Linked DNA regions of Homo sapiens: region 1 is linked to region 2. Evidence: fine-mapped expression QTL. A gene starts in region 2. The other region holds a variant in brackets. All regions are shown on one strand. Distances are between the middles of the regions. Region 1 has its middle 36 kb from the start of CITED2. Region 2 holds the start of HECA (hdc homolog, cell cycle regulator).

Region 1 (11,378 bases), 200 kb before region 2:
TGTTGGGGTAGAGCTATAGACTGGTCACGTGGACGGACTCAGAACCTCCTGGTTAGCCAGGGTGCTGCATGCAATGGTGATAGCTGAGGTCACACACAAGTTTTCTCCTTCCTGGGCTCTGTGTTATTCTACCTGAGAATGCTGTAATGGACTGTGTCAGTTGGCCTCCAGCCAGGAGGTGGTGCTTGCAAAAGAGTGTCAGCTGTGGTAGTAGTGGTGGGATTTGTGCTTGCCTTATGTAACTCAGGGGAGGTATTCTAGAATCTCAGGCAATGGGTGGGTCCATAGAGCTCCCAAAAGTTTCTGTCCCTTGTGTTAAGCTACCAGGGCAAGTGGTGGAGCAAAGCCAGGTGGGGGCTGGGTCAGGCAGGTCCATGCTCTGGCTCTCCACATGCAGGGCAAATAACCCCAGTAGGAGCTGGGGGCCAGTTCTCCGGCTGCTCCGGTAATATTCCAGGAAGCAGTGCAGCTGCCTGTGTTGCACAGAAGAGTTTCACAGGGAGTGGGGAATAGCAGGCAACAGTAAGCCTACCCAGCTCCCACACGCTTAGAAAGGCAGGTGGCAGGTCGCAGGCCAGGCGCGGTGCTCATGCCTGTAATCTCAACACTTTGGGAGGCCGAGGCAGGCAGATCACGAGGTCAGGAGATTGAGACCATCCTGGCCAACATGGTGAAACCCCATCTCTACAAAAAATACAAAACTTAGCCGGGCATGATGGCACATGCCTGTAATCCCAGGTACCTGGGAGGCTAAAGCAGGAGAATTGCTTGATCCCAGGAGGCGGAGGTTATAGTAAGCCAAGATCACTCCACTGCACTCCATCCTGGGAGAAAGAGTGAGACCCCGTCTCAAAAAAAAAAAAAAGAAAAAAGAAAAGAAAAAAGAAAGGCAGGTCTCTCATACTTGCAGTGTTACACTAGCATCAGCTAGCTAAGTTCCAGGCAATCTGCACTTAAAACTCAAAACTGCCCCAGCCCATAAGCCTTCCCTGTGGAGACAGCAACAGCTGCTTTCAGGACATGCTCCTCCCAGTCCCAGCTCCTGTACTTGTGGCTATAGCACACTTCCCACTTGCCCCCAGTTCTGGCCAAGGGAGTCTGTCCCCACTTGAAATTATATCATGAATTTCAGCTAGGAGCTTCTCTCAACGTGCAACCACCACTTGAGTTAGTTGGCAGACTTCTGGGAAGTCCCTTGTGAGGTAGGACCAAAAATCACTTCCCTTAGTCTGTGCTGAAGACTGGGAATGCACACAAGGCTCTTCCCACTGCTGCCCCTGCTTTTATATGCCACATCAATCCCTAAATCAATGCCAGCACTCAGTAGGGTTAAGGCCTTCCCCCATGGACTGGATTAACTGGTTCCCCAGTGGGAGTGTATTTCCTGGAGGCAGTTTATCCCCCTTCAGATTCTGCAGACTTAGTTTTTCACCTGACTCATGGTGTAGGCTGCAGCCCACCACTTCTTTCAAAGGGCCTGTGGTTTCTTTCAGTTTTCCTGTTTAGTTCCTGTGTTGCTTCTTGGAGAAAAATTCACAGTGTGAAACACTACACACTATTGTGTCTTTCCAAGGAGGAGAAGCATGCTGACAATGTCTCCAATCTACCATCCAAGAAGAGACCAAGAGTCTTTTTAGGAATATGAAACTATCCAGCACCAAACAAGGAAAAAATCTATAATGCCCAGCATTCAATCAAGGATTACCATACATCAGGATCTCAAATCTAATAAAACACAATTTAAAGAAAGAAAATAAAAGATCACCAGTCATGAAGGAAGCAAAACACCACCCTTAATGAAGAGAAAAGTCAGTCAATTGAAAACCACCTAGATGTTAGAATTAGCAGACAAGGACATTAAAACACTTATTGTAACTGTTTTTCAAATGATCAAAAGTTAAGTAAAGACATGAAAGATATAGAGGAGACCTAAATCAAATTCTAGTGATGAAAATTTTAGAAATGAGATGAAAAATTCATTGGATGAAATTAGAAGCAAATTAGATGTTTCACAATAATGTGATTATACTTAACACCATTGTACTGCACACATAAAAATGGATAAAATGGCAAATTTTATGTAGATTCTTTTACCACTATATATACAATATATATATTTTTGAGACAAGATCTCACTCTGTCACCCAGGCTGGAGTATAGTGGCACAATCATGGCTCACTGCAACCTCAACCTCCCAAGCTCAAACAATCATCCCACCTCAACCTCCCATGTAGCTGGTACCACAGTCACATGTCACCATGCCCAGCTAATTAAAAAAAATTACAGGCACAGTGGCTCATGCCTGTAATCCCAGCACTTTGGGAGGCTGAGGTGTGTGGATCAACTGAGGGCAGGAGTTCAAGACCAACTTGGCCAACATTGTGAAACCCTGTCTCTACCAAAAATACAAAATTAGCCAGGCATGGTGGCAAGCGCCTGTAATACCAGCTATGCAGGAGGCTGAGGCAGAAGAATCACTTGAACCAGGGAGGCAGAGGTGGCAGTGAGCCGAGATTGTGCCATTGCACTCCAGCCTGGGCAACAGAACAAGACTCTGTCTCAAAAAAAAAAAAAAAAATTGTAGAGATGGGTCTCACTTTGTTGCCCAGGCTGGTCTCAAACTCCTGGGCAATCCTCCTGCCTCAACCTGCCAAAGTGGTGGGATTACAGGTGTGAGCCACCACGCCCAGCCTAAAAATATATTTAAGGGGTCAGGTGTGGTGGCTTAAGCCTGTAATCCCAGCACTTTGGGAGGCCAAGGCAGGTGGATCATGAGGTCAGGAGATCTAGACCATCCTGGCTAACATGGTGAAACCTTGTCTCCACTAAAAATACAAAAAATTAGCCGAGTGTGGTGGTGGGCACCTGTAGTCCCAGCTACTCGGGAGGCTGAGGCAGAAGAATGGCATGAACCCAGGAGGCAGAGCTTGTAGTGAGCTGAGATCACACCACTGCACTCCAGCCTGGGCGACACAGCGAGACTCCGTCTCAAAGAAAAAAAATATATATATATATAAGGAGTTTAAGAAATAGATTAGAAATTGCAGAAGAAAAGATTAGTGTATATGTGTATATGAAGACATAGCAATAGAAATTATCTAAAATTAAACAGAGAAAGAATAAACATTTAAAAAACCATGTATCACTGTGCTGTGGAAAACTTCAAGATGCCTAATATACATGTAATAGAAGTCACTGAAAAAGAAGAGAGAGGGTAACAGAAAAAAATGGGAAGAAATAATGGCCAATAATTTTCCAAATTTAATGAAAAGCATAAATCTACATATTCAAGAAGCCCAATGAACCCAAAGCACAAGAAATGTGAAGAAAACGACACTAAGGCACATCATAATTAAATTTTCCTAAACAAGTGATAGAACATTGTAAAGCAGAGAAAAACATCACAATATATTTAGGGAAACAAAGATAAGAACTATAGCAGATCTCGTATAAGAAAAAATGCAAGTGAGAAGACAGTGACACACAACATCTTTAATGTACTGACAAAAAAATTATTAAACTGTCAAACTAGAATTTTATACCAAGCAAAATATGTTTCAAGAACTAAGGTGAAATAAAGACTCTTTCACATATACAAAAGCTGAAAATATTTATCAGCAACAGACTTGCTCTATAAGAAATGTCAGGCTGGGCGTAGTGGCTCATGCCCGTAATCCCAGTGCTTTGGGAGGCCAAGGTGGGTGGATCACAAGGTCAGGCAATCAAGACTATCCTGGCCAACATAGTGAAACCCCATCTCTACTAAAAACACAAAAATTAGCTGGGCTTGGTGGTGCGCACCTGTAATCCCAGCTACTCAGGAGGCTTAGGCAGGAGAATCGCTTGAACACGGGAGTCGGAGATTGCAGTTAGCTGAGATCACGCCACTGCACTCCAGCCTGGCAACAGAGTGAGACTCCATCTCACCACAAAAAAAAAAAAAAAAAAAAAAAAAAAAAAAAAAAAGAAATATCAAAGGAAGTTCTTCAACCAAAGACATGAGGAAAAGGGAAGAAAAAGAAGAGATGGGTCAAACAGAAAACAAATGGCAAGATGACAGACTTGAATCTATCAATTATCACATTAAATATAACTTTGTCAAAACATCTCAATTAAAAGTCAGAGATTGTCAAACAGAAAAGAAACACAGGGCCGGGTGCGGCAGCTCACGCCTGTAATCCCAGCACTTTGGGAGGTCCAGGCTGGCGGATCACCTGAGGTCAGGAGTTCGAGGCCGGCCTGACCAAACCCCGTCTCTACTGAAAATACAAAATTAGCTGGGCATGGTGGCACATGCCTGTAATCCCAGCTACTTGGGAGGCTGAGGCAGGAGAATTACTTGAACCCAGGAGGTGGAGGTTGTGGTGAGCTGAGATCGCGCCATTGCACTCCAGCCTGGACAACAAGAGTGAAACTTCGTCTCAAAAAAAAAAAGAAAAGAAAAGAAAAGAAAAAAACAGAAGACCAAACTATATGCTGCATATAAGAAATGTACTCTCTCTCCATATATATTTTCTTTCTTCTTGATCAGTCTAGCCAGAGATTGACCAATTTCACTGATTTTCTCAAAGTAACTGTTTTTGGTGTTATTCATTTACACACACACACACACACACACACACACACACACACACACGTTAGATGTTAAAAGACAGAAAAAGATAATCTAGCTAACCTTAACTATAAGAAAGTTGTAGTGACTATATTACTACCAGACATGATAGATTTCACAGCCAACAATATTACATGGGATTTTTCAAGTTTATTTCATAATGATAAAAGGTCATAAACAAATCTAAACATTTATGCACCTAATAATAAAATACATTGAGCAAAAAACTGATAGATCTACAGGAGAGGCAGACAAATTATGGTTTGAGATTTAAATATTCCTCTCTTAATAGAAATGATCTGCTGATTACATTTAAACTGAGCGACTCTGCATTTTCTGGATTCTGGATGGTTGCCTTTCATGAGCCCAATCGAAGAAAGAAAATCCTTGGACCAGATGCTTCACAGCTGAAGCCCGTAGGACCGCGGAAGAATACCTTGAAGATATTGTTTGCATCAAAATCACCCAAATTTATGTCTTCCTTATCCAGGTCCTGCCCACTGTGATAATGAATCGTTTTCTTGGAATCAAAGAGGATGATAAAGACCTCGCCACTTCCTTGATCTTCTCCTCCTCCTTTTGAACCCCAGCGCTGGCTCCATCATGACGATGTGGATGGTACTTCAAGGCCTGTTTCCAATAAGCTTTCTTGATCTTGTCCTCAGAGGCATTCTTGTCACTTCCAGAACCTTGTAGTAATTATCCCTCTTACTCTTCTTCAGTTCCAGCTGTGCATTTTTTAGGAGCTGTTTGTATTCTTTTGTTTTCTCCATCTGATATACTTTTTTCATAGCCTCGCACTGTTTCTTCATACTGTTCTGTGTCCAAGAAACACTGAGCTCTTCTCAAGTAGGCTTTTATGTAAGTGTCATGAGCTTCACTGCATTTGTGCAGCTGTCTATTGCATCATCTAGTTTCCCAAGCTCGGAATTAACCATATCCCGGTTACAGTAGAGTTTAGCAATTGCTTTTATGTTGTCGGGGTCTACCCCGGGGGTTCTGCGTACAGTTCATCAGCTAGTTTGTAATTTCCTTCCCTAAACGCTTTATTCCAGTCTTCTTTCTTTGCGTTAAGTGCTCTGGCATTTCTGCACGCAAGGCAGGCCTTCTCATGGTCAGGAACCACTCTGAGAGCCTGTACAAAAAACTGAACAACTGCCTACTCAGTACAATCTTCATAATAAAGGCAAGGTCCGCGTACATACAGAGCATCCACATTGGTGGAATCCGTTCATAAAATGTCACTGGCCACAGACTGTGCTTCTGGATAACGACCCAGCATTGCTAAACATTCTGCTTTGAGGGATATTGAAGTGATGGCAGACAGGGGCAAATTCTAGGGCATAGTCCATGCAGAAAACAACCTTCTGAAAAGCCCACTTCTCAAAACTTGTTTCTATGACTTTCTCCTATTCCTTGACTGCATTAGCATTTGTGAACTCCTGTTGTGAGTGAGCATTGTTATGATCCAGTTCTAGGGCTCTCTGAAAACTGCAATGTGCTGCCATGGCATTCCCTGGAGAGAGGTGGCACTTGCCCTCTCGTAGATGTCCCCAGAAGAAACCATCATCCAATTTCACTGTGAAAGTATCTCCATGGGCTTCGCAGAACCTTCCAAGTATCATCAATGTAGCTGCTCTATTACTATGATAGCTAGCATTTTTAGGGCACATATCTGTGGCTTTTGTTTAATAGTTATAAGCTTCGTTGTAATCTTCCTTGGCATAGTGTGCATTTCCTTGTTGCTTCAAAGACTGTGCTTCAGTATTTTAAATTACAAACTGGCAAAGCCACCCTCCTTTTATTGAGGCGATCCTGCCTTTTTGTTCTTCTCCATCACTGTCCTGGCAAGCCGTCTTTGCTTCCTCTTCATGGAGCAGCCCTGGCTTGGTTGCC[G/A]CACCACATTGCACGATGGGGCAACTGACAGTTTCTTAAAAAGGAAATTATATCCCTGCCATATGACGCAGCAATTTCACTCCTAGATATTTACTTAAAGGAAAACAAAGTATGTATCTATACACACAAACTTGTAGATGAATATTTATAGCAGCTTTATTTATAACAGCAGAAACCTAGGGAAAGAAGGCTTCAATGTTTATGTTCAGGTGAGTGGATAAACAATTTTTGGTATGCCCATATAACAGAATACAAATCAATGCAAAAAGTGAACTATTGACTCACACAAAACATGGAAGAATCTCAAAATTATGCTGAGCGAAAAAAAATATATTTTTTCTCAGAATGCACACTATATTCCATGTATGTAAAATTCTAGAACACCAACTAATCTACAGTGTTAGAAAACAGATCAGTGGTTGCTTGGGGACTCAGAGGTATGGGGAGCAGGGAGAAGAAGGGGGTATTACCAACGGACATGAGGAAACTTATGATGCATATTTTCATTATCTTGATTATTATGCTGGGTGTATACAAATGTCAAAGCTTTTCAAGGTTTATAGTTTAATTATGTGCATTTTATTGTATGTCAATTTGGCCTCAATAAAGCTGTTAATAAAAATTTTGTCAAGCTTATGTTCCCCAGTAAATGAAATTTACTTCAAGTCACCAACAAAAAAACGTACAAGGTCCATTTTTCCTCTGTTCTGTGTTTACAACTGACAGTTAATATGAAAGACAGAATATCCAAAAATTCTATCTGCTGAGGGCCACAAATTATCAAGTCTCTTGTCAAGGGTGGCCAGCCACTGGTTAGTGGCTCAAGACACAAAATGCAGAACCAACACATTCAACTGACCATGATCATTTCTCCAGGGGTAATCTCAGTTCAAGTGTGCACTTCTGCCAGTCCAGACACTTGCTTCTTTATTATTATCCAAATGCTTGCACACATCTCACAAACTGGCACTAGTTCACCGATGATGATTTGGCCACTTTGGGAGAATTCCATATGTTTCCAAAATTGTCCATCTTACAGTGTTCTTAGAGCAAATGAAGTTTCTCTTCATTAGGACAGTAAAGTCCTAATGTTGAATGTACTATCTTTTTTGATTGGAATAAAGAAGCTTCTAAATAAAATTCTGATTCTCTAATAGCTTTAATTACAAGGAAAGCACCAAAAATCCATAGCTTATTACAGTCTGTCTTTTGATCCTGTGGCAAAGGCCTACCTTGCCTCACGGCTACAGCAGCCACTGCCAAATTCATGGCCGTGTCTGCTGGCACAATTCCAGGGGCTTTCTGGGAGCTCGTGCTACACAATTTTGGCCCTTAACTGAAAATACTCATTTCCAGCAAGCTGGTTTACTCCTGTAAGATCATCTTACCTCTTTGCAAATTACTAGCCATTATTATAACACTTTATACCTTGCTACTTCCACTCTCAGGAAAAGAAGAAATGCAAATAACTTGGGGTTACCTAATTCGTAACACCTCCCTAAAGTTAGATGCCACTTGGGCTAATTGAAATTTGGGGGAAGAAGCCTAAATTGAATGATTTTACCCTGAAACAATGTCTTAAAAATCCTAATTTGGCTAGGTTTATCCTGAATTAGAAGAATTAAATTTGTCATTACCAGGTAGAAATTTAGCATTTATGACAGAAATTAAATTTGGTTATAGAAAATTTTTAAAAATCTCTATTTCATGCACAATTAAGTCATGGACTGATCCATTTACAGCCACTAAAAAAGCATCCACCCCTACTAAGAGGAGGATCCAGCCTCCTGGTCTATCTCATTTGGGCAATGATGGAATGAATCATATAAGCTCCCAGACAAGGGTCTCAAGATAGAATTTAAAATAATTCCACTACAAGGATAAAGGAGATTATAGAATAGATTGGGACAGAAATAGGCATGCTAAGCCAGAATTCACACAGGAGTTCATTTGACTCTAAACCTATGCTCTTTTTTTTTTCTGATGAGATGGTTCAGAGTTTGCGTTTCAACTCACTAGCTTAGAGTCTGAACATTATTGCCTTTTATGTAAAAGAGGGATTATAGCGATCTTAAAGGGTGAGAGAGCCTTTGTAAAGGCCTGACACTAGCGTTTGACTCATTTTATTTAAAATTATAGCTATTTATGTAGCAGAATGTCAGGTGATGTTGTGGAGAAACTGAGGAACCAACCAAAAAAAAAAAAAAAAGGTTATATACCAAATGATCAGTTTTCTGGCCAGAGAGAATTTGTATTGAAATTGGCAAGAAAGAGGCAGCAGGATTTTTGAACTGCCTGTACATGATTAAGTGAAAGTCAGAGGGAGTCAGAAAAGAAATTATACTTGCTTTCACAGCTCCGTTCTACAGCATTCTTCCACCACAAAAAAGCTTGCAGGTGATTTGTTCAGACCAGTTCTAAACGCCTGCAGAGGTAACAGCCCCACCTTTTGGAGATTATTACTTCACCTAACTCTGATGGGAGACAAGCTAATAGGACTTCCCATTAAGAGTAGTTCTGGATACTAAATTTACTCATTTTCCTCTGTAGTCTGATTCCACTTCTTTTTATTTTCACCAATGTTCAGTGATCTTGCTTTGACTTATTGTTGCTGTTGACCTTGACTCATGGCTTCAGGTTATTCTATTCACCATCTACCTGTCCCTAGTTCTTCTTCGCCCCCTCCCTAAAAACTTCCAAAAAACCTTTCTGAGAGTATGTTTCTAAGTAACAGCCTTCCCTGTATGTTACAGCCTCTAAGATTATGAAGTCAACACCGACATGCTTCTTTTGAGACAGATTTCATCATCACAGCAGTGAAAGAAACACAAGATGCGTTTTAAGGGTGACTTTTTGAAAGATGAAGATGGCTAGGGAGAAGTCTGTTGGATGGAAGATGAGCCCATTTGGCAAAGGATTAAATGAAGCAGCAAGTTTGATAAATCTGTTCGAGGTTTAAGAATATTCAGACACCTTTTCTTCCCAAGAAAATCCCCACACATCTCTTTTGGAACAAAGGCTTCTCTACAATGGTTCCAAATGATTCAGACATAACTTCCTGCATCTGTCACCAAAGGGATTTCTTCACTTTTAGTAAGACCATTAGCTGGCTTGCCAAATTCTTCAGCATAACAAAATTATACGTCATTTCTCTCTTGGGTATGCTGAAATGGTGAAAATTGCCCAGAGAAAATAGAAACTCTGATAAATGATTTTCTTACTGTTTTCAAAAGACCCAAACCTTTCTCTTATTAAATTGAATCTTTCAGGATGAACACAATCAAGACCATGGGGAATATCTCTATATTCTTAGAACACTTTCCAGCTAAAGTTTACAGATGATATTTCTTCAGACACAGATTTAGAATTAAATTATTTTTCTGAAATAGAACTCTTCTCTCTGAGCTTATGCGGAATCAGCCAATTTGACTATGTGATTTACTTTGTCCTTTTTATATGAAGTCCAAGAATTAAAGATGAAAAAAAGAACAGGTAAATATTGCTGTAAAACAGACGTTCATGTCATAAACTTGATACTGAGAAATAAATCTCTCTCCTCATTAGTGAACTACTTGAGGTAGAGACTTCGTTGACAAAATGGCTGAAATGCAGGACCTCTAGTTTCCTCATAAATTATGTTTCCAAATGATTGGATAATATTGTCAACACAAATATGTGGTGTATATATTTCCAAATCAAGATGCTTTGTGGTTGTCCGTAAGATACAGATTGAGTTGCATGACACCACTGCTAGACAGGTATGTGAGAAAATATATTGAACACTGAAAAACAATATTTTCTTTTTTTTTTTTTGAGATGGAGTCTCACTCTGTCGCCCAGGCTGGAGTGCAGTGGCGTGATCTCGGCTCACCGCAACCTCAGCCTCCCGGGTTCAAGTAATTCTCCTTCCTCAGCCTCCTGAGTAGCTGGGGCTATAGGCGCATGCCACCACATTAGCTAATTTTTTATTTTTAGTAGAGACGGGGTTTCACCATGTTGGCCAGTCTGGTCTTGAACTCCTGACCTCAGGTGATTCACCAGCCTCGGCCTCCCAAAGTGCTGGGATTACAGGTGTGAGCCACCACACCTGGCCAAACATTTTACATTTGAATGTTCTTCCAATAGAAACACTTGACGACCTTTACTAGAATAACTCTTTATATACCAAAAGCATATCTGGGCTATGAAGACAAGTTCTTTGAATTATTCATTTCCTGAACACAATTGTATTAGTCTGCTTGTGGTACTATAATAAACTAGAGATTGGATGACTTAAATCAGAGACATTTACTTTACACAGTTTTGGAGGTTGGGAAATCCAAGATCAAGGTGCCAATAGATTCAGTGTCTGGTGAGGGTCTACTGCCTGGCTTGTAGTCAACTGCCTTCTCCCTGGGTCCTCACATGACAGAGAGTCAAAGTTCTTACTCTTCCACTTCTTAAAAAGCCATTAGGGCCGGGCATGGTGGCTCACGCCTATAATCCCAGCACTTTGGGAGGCCAAAGCGGGCGGATCATGAGGTCAGCAGATCGAGACCATCCTGGCTAACACAGTGAAACCCCATCTCTACTAAAAATACAAAAAATTAGGAGGGCGTGGCGGCAGGCGCCTATAGTCCCAGCTACTCGGGAGACTGAGGCAGGAGAATCGCTTGAACCCGGGAGGTGGAGGTTGCAGTGAGCTGAGATCGTGCTACTGCACTCCAGCCTGGATGACAGAATGAGACTCCGTCAAAAAAAAAAAAAGCCACTAATCGCGCTCTCATGACCTCGTCTAATCTTAATTACCTCCAAATCCTCACCAATAAATTCCATCATATTGGGAGTTAGAGCTTCAACATATGAATTGGGAGTAACGGGAGAGATAATG
Region 2 (11,378 bases):
GAGAATCGCTTGAACCTGGGAGGTGGAGGATGCAGTGAGCTGAGATCAAGCCACTACACTCTAGCCTGGTGACATAGTGAGACTCTGTCTCAAAAAAAAAAAAAAAAAAGAAGGTGTTTAGGCCATGAGGGCTCTCATGAACGGGATTAGATCCCTCATAAAAGTGCTTGAAGGAACAAGTTCATCCCTTTCACCTTCTCTGCCATGTGAGGATGCTGTGATTCTCACCAACTACAGAATCTGCTGGCTGTGACCTTGGACTTCCCAGCTTCTAGAACTGTGAGAAATAAATTTCTATTGTTTATAAATTATCCACACTGAGGTATTTTGTTGTGGCAGCAGAAACAAATTAACACATGAAGTAATTAAGTGGACAAATGCCCAGAAATATATAAATAAGAACCTAAAGGTAAACAATAGTGGAATGATCAAATTTCCAAGGTGCAGACATATGATGATGCACCTGTATATTTACTGCTCTGCTAAAATGTCCACAAACTATTCTATGTGTAAAAATCAGATTATAAAATATATGATCTTCTTTTTGCAGAAACTATATATGTACTTTTAAAAGTTTTGTGAGAAAAAAAATTTAAGGCTGCAAGAACATATATCAAAATATTAATAATGTTGATCTCTTAAGTGGTGGAATTATGTGTTTAACCAGAAAGGCAAAGAAAGCTTCTTTTCTAAGATGCTTATTTCATTACTGGTAAAATAATAAAATAACACAATATTTTCAAATAAATAAAGCCCTTAAAAATGCCAAAGAGGGCCGGGCGCGCTGGCTCACGCCTGTAATCTCAGCACTTTGGGAGGCCGAGGTGGGCGGATCTCGATGTCAGGAGATCAAGACCATCCTGGCTAACACGGAGAAACCCTGTCTCTACTAAAAATACAAAAAATTAGCCGGGCATTGTGGCGGGTGCCTGTAGTCCCAGCTACTCCGGAGGCTGAGGTAGGAGAATAGTGTGAACCTGGGAGGTGGAGCTTGCAGTGAGCCGAGATAGTGCCACTGCACTCCAGCCTGGGTGACAGAGCGAGACTCCATCTCAAAAAACAAAAATGCCAAAGAGTTGCTGATCAAAATCAGTTAGGACAGATTTTTTTCTGTAAAGAATCTCTTCTGGTACCTTCAAGTTCTTTAAATTATTCATAGCTAAAAGCCTGAAGTAAACTCATAGGAGGATTAAGCTGCAAGAGATTTTCCCGTTTTATCTCCCGTTTTCAATTCTCCATGGAATGAAATATATTCTTGGACTTACAGGAAAATTGACATTGAAGGTTTAGTTTCTAGAACTTAAGGACAGATCACAGATCCTCTAACAAGTAAAGAATGAGAGAAAGACGAGACTGCGCATAGAGCACCATGAACGGCGCACAGAAGAGCTCTTCACTTTAATACACGAAGTGTACAGGAAGAATCTTTGATGCATGAGGCAATATTTTCTGCCAATCTCCACTAAAAAGGTGGATTTCAAAAGACAACATCCAAAGGCAAATAGTTCTTGAGACCCAAAAAACTGACTTCTAGATAAGGCAAGAAAATGTTTTCTAAGATTATAATGGTAACCTATATACCTTAGATCCTCAACAGATATTCCTTGATTTGAAAATAAACAGCAAGCAAACATTTTTCATTTTCCTACTGATGGATATAGGTAATTTAAATGTAGTAGGAATTAAAGTAAACATCTAAAAAGAAACTATTTAAAATATACTACAAACCTCGGTTATAAAAAGTGTCTTTAGTGGCCTAAATATGCAGCAAAATACAAATCCTGTGCATAGGGAACAGGTGGTACTCCAAAAAAAATCTACTTGTCAACAGATATATGGAATTCAGAATGCGTTTTCCCATGGAAACACTGTTATAATGGTGGTTAATTCCCAGTCTCCTCCACAAAGCCTATTTAGTTGTTAGTGAGAAATATTTATCCCACACCTGTGTTTTATGTGAATGGTACTGGTGGTCTAAATGAAGACATCCATAATGCTAGGGGAATAAGAATGGCTCTCCTTTCACTCAGAGCTGAAGCTTCTCAGCAGAGTCCCTCTCCATAAAGGGTTTCCAGGTAAAGAGATGCCACCCTCAAGGTCATGCTCTCTTCCTGGGGGGAGCCCAAGTCCAAATGACCAGTCAACTGGGAGTTGGGGGAGTGTGTAGAAGGCCCTGCCCCTATTATTTAAGGTGAGATAACTCAGAAAGGCCATCCCACCTCCAGAGCTCCCCCAAGAGAGGATCAACTGGGGTCTCTGTTACAGATGCATCACAGTTCAACTCCTGCTTCTGCCCAATCCTGCTTCCTTCCCTCCTCCACTAGGAATGATGCCAAGAGCACTCTCCAGTAACCTCCAGCACGTGTATCTCTGCTCAGGCTATTTCCAGGATCTAAGACAAACAGCTAATACTTCGTAAGCTGGTACTGTAAGTCAGACACTGTTCTAATCTATCTAATGTATGTAATCTATTTATTTTAAATATATTTAATAGATAGATACAGATATTTTACTACATCTGTATGGGTAGGTACTACAATCCATTTTACAAAGCAGAAACCAAGGCTCAGAGAAGTTAAATGACTTGCCCAAGGTCATTTGACAAGTAATTTGAGAAGCCAGGATTTGAATCTAGGTCCACCAAATGGAAAGCCAATCTCTATGCAAACGAACTCCATCTGCTAGAAACAGTTCCATGAATTAAGGCAGACTCTGCTGCCCACGGGTTCTAGAGGCAGTAAGGAATGAGTGGAGTGATGAACCATGGTCATCCAATAACAGGAATTTATAAAAGTACTTAAGATCCAGGCCCAATGAAAACTAGATATACTATGATCAAGGTTTCAAATATTTTTAGGCCTGATATAAAAATGTAGAGGCCTAATGGAACCAGAATGAAACTACGTATCTACCTTTTGATAACTAGATTCTAAATATAACCATTGGTAATCTTGTATACCTGCAATGAAAATGCAAATGGTATGTGCAGACAGATTACTATGTAGGAAAAAGATGGGGTGGTCTTTTACACCAATCCCTGAAAAATAAGCCTCATAAACTAGTATCTTAAAATTAGTATCTAATAAATGTCTTATTAGCGGTATGATATCCTAAGAATTAATATTAAACTTACTCAAGATGCACAACTGCAGCCAGTTCATCTTCTCCAACCACAACTATACCGCGGCTTCCCCAAGCTCTCCGTAACTAGTAATCTTCCTTTACAGAATAAGTATTTATTTATGCCCACTTGACAAACTGAACAACTAAAAGCTAATATTGCCCTGCTCTGGTGGCCGCACTGCCCAAGAGCTACAAGACACAAAACCATTCTATAAACTCCAAACAACTACAAATAAACACTATTAATTTTAAGCGAAGTCATTAAGTTTGCATGTTTGCAGATGTAGATAGCTGACTTGAACAGTGAAAAACTATTTACAAGTTTCAAAGAATATCAAGTACCTCCTTTCTTGTAATAATTACTTGATTTGTAATTTCTGTAATTACAAAATCTAATGTCACAGTTAAGTAAAAAATTGAAATACACTTAAAACTACTACCGATAATAACTTTAACATTAAAAATCCAAATATTGGTCCTTAGTTGATTTTGAGAATTTACGCATCTCTTGCCCCTTCCTCTTTAAAAATTCACCAGTAACGCCTCTCCCAAACCCCTACCTTATAAACTATAGCTTTAAATAACAAAGAAAAAAACAAAGAAAGAAAGAAAAGAAAAGAAAAAAGCATTTGATTTTGCACCCAGGAGTCCTCAGCATCCAAGTTCAGTTATCATCAACTGCAGAACTGAGGGGGGGTTCCTCACATTAAGGTGAATCATTCACGAAGACTTCACATCACTTCAGAAACAAGAATCAGGCATCATAAAATTTGGCTCACTCCTCTAATATAAGTTACATCCTCTGACCCTGACTATGGGAATGTTGGCCCATTCCTTTTTCTCCCCGCCTTTCACTTAATAAAATAAGCTCCTAATCAGAAACAGCTCTTCACATACACTGTGCTGCTAAATATACTTGAGTCTGCCACTTCAGAGAATAATAATAGGGGCCCCTTAACCAGTTTGTTATGTACAAACTAGGAGGTACAAGTAGCCTAAGAAAAAAATTTCCTCATGCCACCTTAAATTGGACTAATCTTTTGGAGCAAGAAAAAAAAGGAAACTGTGAACTTGAAGCTTCCACATAGGCCAAAAAAAAAAAAAAAAAGGAGCTGGTAGGGGGGTGGGCAGAGCAAACCAAAACCACCACCAGAACAGGAATGCAAGCTCCCTGAGGACCGGGATGTCTCGTCTTGATTACCGCTGGATCCCTTAGTATTGAACACGGTACTTGCAACACTGCAGGTAATCTTTTTTAAATGAATAAACGAAAGCTGTCATCATTGTTCATGCACTCTTTGTGAGAAACTTTAAGCTCATTATATATGTAACCTTTAAAATAACAAGAACTGGGAGCATAATAGGGAAGGGGCACTCTGAGCCTCTCAATAACACTAGGAGGGAGCCAGGGTAATTTTTTTTCAAGTTTACACATGAGGAAATTGAGGCTCTGGAAGACTGACCTTTCCAAGATGATGAAGCTCTAAATGGCTGAGCTAGGAGTCTGTCCTACCCAGAGTCTGAGCACCTTTCTCTCTGCCACATCAATACCAAAATGAAGGTTAAAGCCAGGAGAAAAACAAAAGAACATGAAGAACACAGGCTACCCAAAACTAGTATTCTGAAACATTCACAAACGGGGTAAGTTTGTTTCTGAAAATAAATAAATAAATCTTCCTATTTCAATATTGCAGAGACACAGCCAACGGGGCCTACAGTTCTAACAGGCGACATTCAGCCGCCTATGTTCAGAGCACTGTACGCTGCTTGTAAGAGCAGGTGCCCTGTTTAAAAAGTGCCTGATCTGGCTGGGCGTGGTGACTCACGCCTGTAATCTCAGCACTTTGGGAGGCCGAGACGGGCGGATCACGAGGTCAGGAGTTCGAGACCAGCCTGACCAATATGGTGAAACCCTGTCTCTACTAAAAATAACAAAAATTAGCCGGGCGTGGTGGCGGGCGCCTGTAATCCCAGCTACTCGGGAGGCTGAGGCAGGAGAATCGCTTCAGACCGGAAGACGGTGGTTGCAGTGAGCCGAGATTGCGCCACTACGCTCCAGCCTGGGCGAAATTGCAAACTCCGTCTAAAAAAAAAAAAACAAAACAAAAAAGTGCCTGATCTACATAAAGAATGGCTTCAAAAGCTGACGCTATAAATTAAAAGCCAGATATAACAATTCAAATCTCCCTTCATTAAAATACCTACGTTGTCTTCCTGGAAAAAGTGCCTGACTAGAGGAATTCAAAGAACTGTCCAAATAAGTAAGTGTTTGCCCAGCACCTTATAACGAAAACCATGGCTCTGTAATGAGAACAGAAATCCTGTCACATCTGGGCCAGTTCCTAAGTGTCCCCTCAAAAGGAACATTCAGGCACTACCTAAGATTATGAGGCTTCCTTCTGAAAATGTTAAGCACAATGACATAGAGAATGATTTTTCTTTTCTTTCTTTTCTTTTTTTTTTTTTTTTTTTAACTCCGGGCTGAGAACGGAAGTCAAGTTCAGATTCTCTTCCTTCCTCAAGCAAGCCAAAAAATTAAAGAGCAAACACAGAGGCCCTAAATGTCTCGAGGCCTCTTCACCTGTGGCGATCGACGCAGCAAGCCTGGGTGTGCTAAGAATTGAGGCTCTCTCTCCTTCATTCCGGGGGTTACGGGTGGCCTTGGAGCACCGGGAAGAATTAACCGGTGCCTAAGTTTTCAATCGGATCATTCTTCTCAACTTGGGCGGCTCTTTCCTCCCTTCCTTCCTCCCTTCGGCCCGGCACACACGGCGGGGCAGTGCCAGCGCGGGCAGCAGGCTGGGCCCGAGGGCAGCGCTGCCGCAGCCGGGAGCCCCTCAGAGTGTGGGGCGCGGGCTGCCCCCCGCGCGGACACCGGGCAGGGGCCGCAGATCTGTCCCCGCCGCCAGGCGTGGGGACCGCGAAGGGGCAGCCGCGGCGGGGCGGAGGGGCGGGGTGAGCACTTCCTGACTCTCGCATTGTCCACGCACCGCCCGCGCCACCCAGGGCCCCGCCACCGCGCCGTCCCCGTCGGGGAGGAAGTTGGCGCTCGCCCCGCCAGCCCCGTCTTACCGTTTTTGGCATCGCCCGCGGCCGCAGCCCCCGCGGCGGCCGCAGCGTTCGCGGCGCCAGTCCCCGCGCCTCCGGCGCCCGCCGCGCCTCCGGCGCCCGGCGCGCCCGCCGCCGCCGCCCCGCAACCGGCCGCCGCCGCCAGGGCCCCCCCGGCCGCCGCTCCCGCCGCGCCCGCCGCTGCCAGGGCCCCGGCTCCATTTTCCTGCTCGTCGCCGCTGCTGTTGGCGCGCTTGTTTTTGCGGCCGCCTTTGCTGTTTTTGGGGTTGGGCATCTCGCTCGCTCGCGTCCAGGTAGGTGCCCGGCGTCAGCGAAGGCGGATCCCAGAGGCACGGCCGTTCCCGGCCCTGCGTGAAGCCGGCTCCGGGAAAGAACGGAGGGCGCGAGCCGGCGGTTCCCTCGGCTCCCGTCTAGCCGCACGGCCCGTGCCGCGCCATCCTGGCCGCCGCGCCCTCTCCGGCTTCCTGGAGCCGGCACGCGGCCACCCGAGGCTCGCAGCCGCGCGGGCGCCGCGGGCCCGGGGCGCAAGCGAGACGCTCCCGAGCCGGAGGGAAAAGGCGGGTCTCCGGCTTGTTTTGATTCGGCTGCACTGACACGCTCTGGGCCCGCCCCCTCCCGTGACGACACTGGGGATTCGGCCTGGCCGCGCCCACCAGGTGACCTCACGGCTGACGGGACCGCCCGCGTGACGTCACGCCCCGCGCGGGGCCTGCCCACCTCGAGTGACGTCATCCAGGCGTCCCCACCCGGGCCTCCTGGACTCCCGGGCGTTCATGAGCTGCCCTGCTTGACTTGCTCCACCCGCCAGTGCAGTGGCATGTGGAGTTCTTCGGTGGCCTCCTGGCCTTAATGTAATTGAGGCTTAGAACAGTATGGTCTGGAAAAATAAGCTGTGACTAGAGCAAGAATGGAAAACAAAAGATTTTGGATTAATAACTCATTCAAAGGCTATGCCTTTCAGTAACAGTAATTAAAGAAACAGGGGACCGGGCGCGGTGGCTTATGCCTGTAATCCCAGCACTTTGGGAGGCCGAGGCGGGTGTATCACGAGGTCAAGAGATCGAGACCATCCTGGCCAACGTGGTGAAACCCTGTCTCTACTAAAAATACAAAAAAAAATTAGCTGGGCGTGGTGGCGTGCGCCTGTAGTCCCAGAAACTCGGGAAGCTGAGGCAGGAGAATCACTTGAACCTGGGATCCGAGATCGCGCCACTGCACTCCAGCTTGAGCAACAGAGCGAGACTCTGTCTCAAAAAAAAAAAAAAAAAAAGAAAAGAAAGAAAGAAACAGGGTAGAGTTCCCAGACAATGGGGATGAACACCAGGGTCCTGAATGGGAAGCCTTCACAGTCTGGTGGTGAAAACAATTCACTCAAACAAGACCCATCATCCAGGGATGTAACTAGATGTTGCCTGGACTCTGAAGCAGTCCCTGCTTGGGGGGAACCCATCCCTATGCATAGGGCTGAGTTGTCCTGAAAGATAGTGAAAGATAGGTAGCCAGGTTATGAGCAGTAGGAGATTAGGTGACACCAGTGAAGACAGGCAATATGAGGGCAGGGGACCCCTGGGAAGAGCTCCCCTTGATCTCTTTCTGCAATTCTATTCTACCTTTTCGGCCAACTCCTTCCCTTCCTTCAGGTCTCAGCTCAAATACATCACTTCCACAGAGACCTTCCCAGGAGAGCTGTCAGAAGTTCCACCCTGTTATTTTCCTCCTCCATCTCTAATTATGTTGGCAATGTAGGTGTTTACTTATTTCTTGTATATCTCCCTCTCACTGAAATGAAACCTCCATGGATAGATTTTATCTGCCTTGGGCACATCAGAGAACAGCTGGCATAAATTTGTTGAATGTATAAATTAGGTTCCTTCCTCACGAACTGTGGAGGAAAGACTAGTTTAGCTGACAGCTTTACAGTGTTCCCCTTTTATAGTGTAATCTTTAATTCAGCCCTTTAGTAAAAGCTCTGTCACGGTGTTGTTGTTACCATTAGAGGGTCTTGACTGCAAGTCGTCCAAGTTCTTGGCATTTTGAACAAACAATTGGACCAAACGCCCAGCAAAGCAAGGAAAGAAGAAAGCAGGGATTTATTGAGAATGAAAGTACACTCCACAGTATGGAAGCGGCCCCAGCGGTGGCTCAAGGTTCCGGATGCAGAATCTTCTGAGGTCCAAATACCCCCTGGAGGTTTCTCATGTAAATGAAGTGGTGACGCACAATTAGTCTGATTGGTTGCTTTCGTCAACCAATCAGAGGCTGAAGTGGAGTTAACAAAGGTCACACTTCTGTGCAATCACACTTTTTGCACACTTCTGTTTAAAAAGCAACCAATCAGAGGCTAAGGTGAAGTTACAAAGTTGCACTTCTATGCAAAGACTCCACCCGCAATCAGTCTCATTGGTTGCTGACAGCCAGTTTCCCATCTGCCACGCAGAAAAGGTGAGGGTTTGCAAAGGGAGCAGCTTCTGGTCCTTTTGTTACTCAGGTGTGGAAAGTTAGGGTTTTCCTTTCAATTTAGTTTAGGAAGTGGGGTGAAACGCCCTTAGGTTCCCTGCCTCCAGACTCTGTTCTCTGCCTCATTGTGAACTATACAGATAGACAGGAAAGTACAAGAAACAATACTCTCCCCCACATTCAGGTAATGGAGAGGAGATTCTGATTGCGAGCTCTGGGCAACCATAGCAGAATGCATAACAGAGCCTGGAACGGCAAGAAGGAGCAAGCACTGGATACTCAGGGGAAATTGCTGGTTGGACTCTTTAGTAGAAAAAAAAAGTTGAAATTTTAAATTCCCTAATATGTATTAGAGGATAGTGACCCTTTAGAAGGCCCTATTGATAGATAGATATTTTGTGCTTATATTTTCATGTCTATTTCTCCCCAACCTTGAAATCCCCTAGGTGCTAAGAGAGCAGGGATTGTGCCTAGCTTTCTAACGCTACAGAGTCTGGCATAAACCTTGACCCACAGTAAGTATTCAATAAAAATTTGTTGCATGGAAGATACCTAAAGCACTCTTCTTCTGGCTACATTATTCTGAACCTTAAAGTCTCAGCTAAATCATCAATTCTCTAGGAAATCTGTGACAACCCAAAACTAGACTTGTCCCCAGATACTCCCTGCACCTTCCTCACCATAGCAGCTTACACACTGGGATATTGCTTTGGTGGCCACTTGGACACCAAAAATGAGGGGTGAAAGAGAGAGTGAAGTCAAGAAATTCTGAAAATCAGAAGAAATGATGAAGGTAGTTAATTAAAGGGAGACTTCCCGGGGAGGGCAGTGGGTCCGTGGAGGAAGATAATGAATTACTGTTGCCCATTCAGACTTAGCTTAATTTCATTATTGATACCACTAGAGGTCTCAAAATATGTGGGTGATGTTAGCTTTGGCGTTTCTTTTTTTTTTTCTGGTTTTTTGTTTTGTTTTTTTAAGTCGTGAAGGCGAAGACATTTTAGGTTAGAGTACAAGAAAATTGAGATAATTATTTTCTTGAATAAGCACATTGCTGTCATGCCATATTGGATCAGAGTTAGTATGCATGTACCCTGCAGACAGACATTCACACCAGCTGCCTCCCACCTCTACATAACTGAGAATTAAGAATTGGAAACTTTCCACAAAAATATCCTAATTGGCTCAAAGCACCCAGACATCCAGCCAGTTGCTGTTCTGGTTAATTGTGTGAGCTACCTCCTTCTATTCAAACTGAAACAAAATGAAAAGGAGGAAGGAGAAGCTTGCCACTTCTTCCATGCTCAACCTCGCTAATCTATTTTTAGCCTTAGTCAAATTTGGTGCAGAGGCAATAGTTCCGATTTTATTGCTACAAAGACAATATACTAAAATCAAGATGTTAGGAACAAAATGTAGGTGAAGTTAAAGGACTCCATTTCCTATGTTCTATCCTGCTGTCCTAGCCGTTTTCCCACCATTTCTGAAGGTGAGAGAGAGAGACAGCATACCAAAAGACAAAAGGTGGCAGATGGTACAATGGAACATTCCCCTTAGAAACTTCCAGAAGTATAAAGAACTCCAAGGAACTGAGGAAGCCACTCTGTTCTGTACATCTACACTTGCCTTCTCATTCTTCAATTTCCCTGATCAACTCATGCTCTGATATAAACTTCAAAAAAATTATACCTCTATCCTAGGTTTCCTTCCCCCAAACCTCACCCACCCTATTGCTCACTTCTCTGCGAAAACAAAATAAAGCACAGCAACAAATCAAGGGCATCAAAAGCAAACAATTTACACCCTTAAGAAAGGGGTGGGCTAATCTTCAGGCTGAACTGGAATAAGCAGTCATTGTTTCAGTGCCCTAATTTTGTTCATTTGACATTTTGTGGCTGTCTTCTGAGCTCTTGGGGTCAGCTAAGTTTGGTTAGGTTTAAAGTACAAAATATATGTGTTAAGGATAATTGAAAACTTAGAACATAGGTAAGAAGCCAAATATCCAAATACACCTTGATCGAAAAAATCATATTGGAACTCAGAAGGAATTCTGCAGATAACACAGTAATGCACACAAGAATATGTCCACAATTGAAACATAAGCTAAAAGGTACTAAAGCCTGATCTGCTAAAAAGTCACTTCAAATAAATACACCTGGAGCAATGCATTGTCTTCATGCATCAGTTTTTTCTTCTGCAAATAGCCTTTCCTATGGCCACAGGTTTTCTTTGAGGAATAATGACAATTGTGATTATAAAAACTTTGAAAAAATGGAATATTAAAGCAAATAATAATATTGATTAATAAATTCCATAGATCTACTCTCCCTTTAGGCTGTTCCCGATTACCAATATTAATATTTTTCTCAAATATTTGCCCTTAAAATCTCTTTTCCATCCTTTAGTTGTGACTTTTACATTATTTTCATAATCTATAAAAGCAGTCATAAAAAAGGGTCAGAATTTTTTTCAGTGATCCCTGAACTTGCTGCTTACTCGAACCTCTGTGCCTTCCTTGCTCATACTATTGTCCCAGTTCAGCATCAATACTATCTTAGGCCCCAGTAAACCCGAAAGAACGTTTCCTTCATGAGATTTATTTACTTTTTTTTTTTTTTTTTTTTTTTGGGACGGAGTCTCGCTCTGTCGCCAAGGCTGGAGCGCAGTAGCACAATCTCGGCTCACTGCAACCTCCACCTCCCGGGTTCAAGTGATTCTCCTGCCGCAGC

The links.
Region 1: its variant is fine-mapped to the expression of HECA in whole blood (INTERVAL, PIP 0.98). The same link has a PIP of 0.9 or more in monocytes.

What each region holds. Positions count from the first base shown.
Region 1 is chr6:139,333,179-139,344,556 of GRCh38, reverse strand. It overlaps the pseudogene LOC100129844. Among named protein-coding and RNA genes, the nearest start is that of CITED2, 36 kb to the left of the region's middle. The variant G/A (reference allele first, on the strand shown) is at 6,509.
Region 2 is chr6:139,130,485-139,141,862 of GRCh38, reverse strand. It overlaps HECA (hdc homolog, cell cycle regulator), which reads right to left and starts at 6,783. Exons shown (of 4, transcript NM_016217.3): 1 at 6,196-6,783. The coding sequence starts at 6,466. RefSeq lists enhancers at 5,712-5,831, 6,697-6,991, 8,270-8,319 and silencers at 5,942-6,211, 6,612-6,691, 6,802-6,991.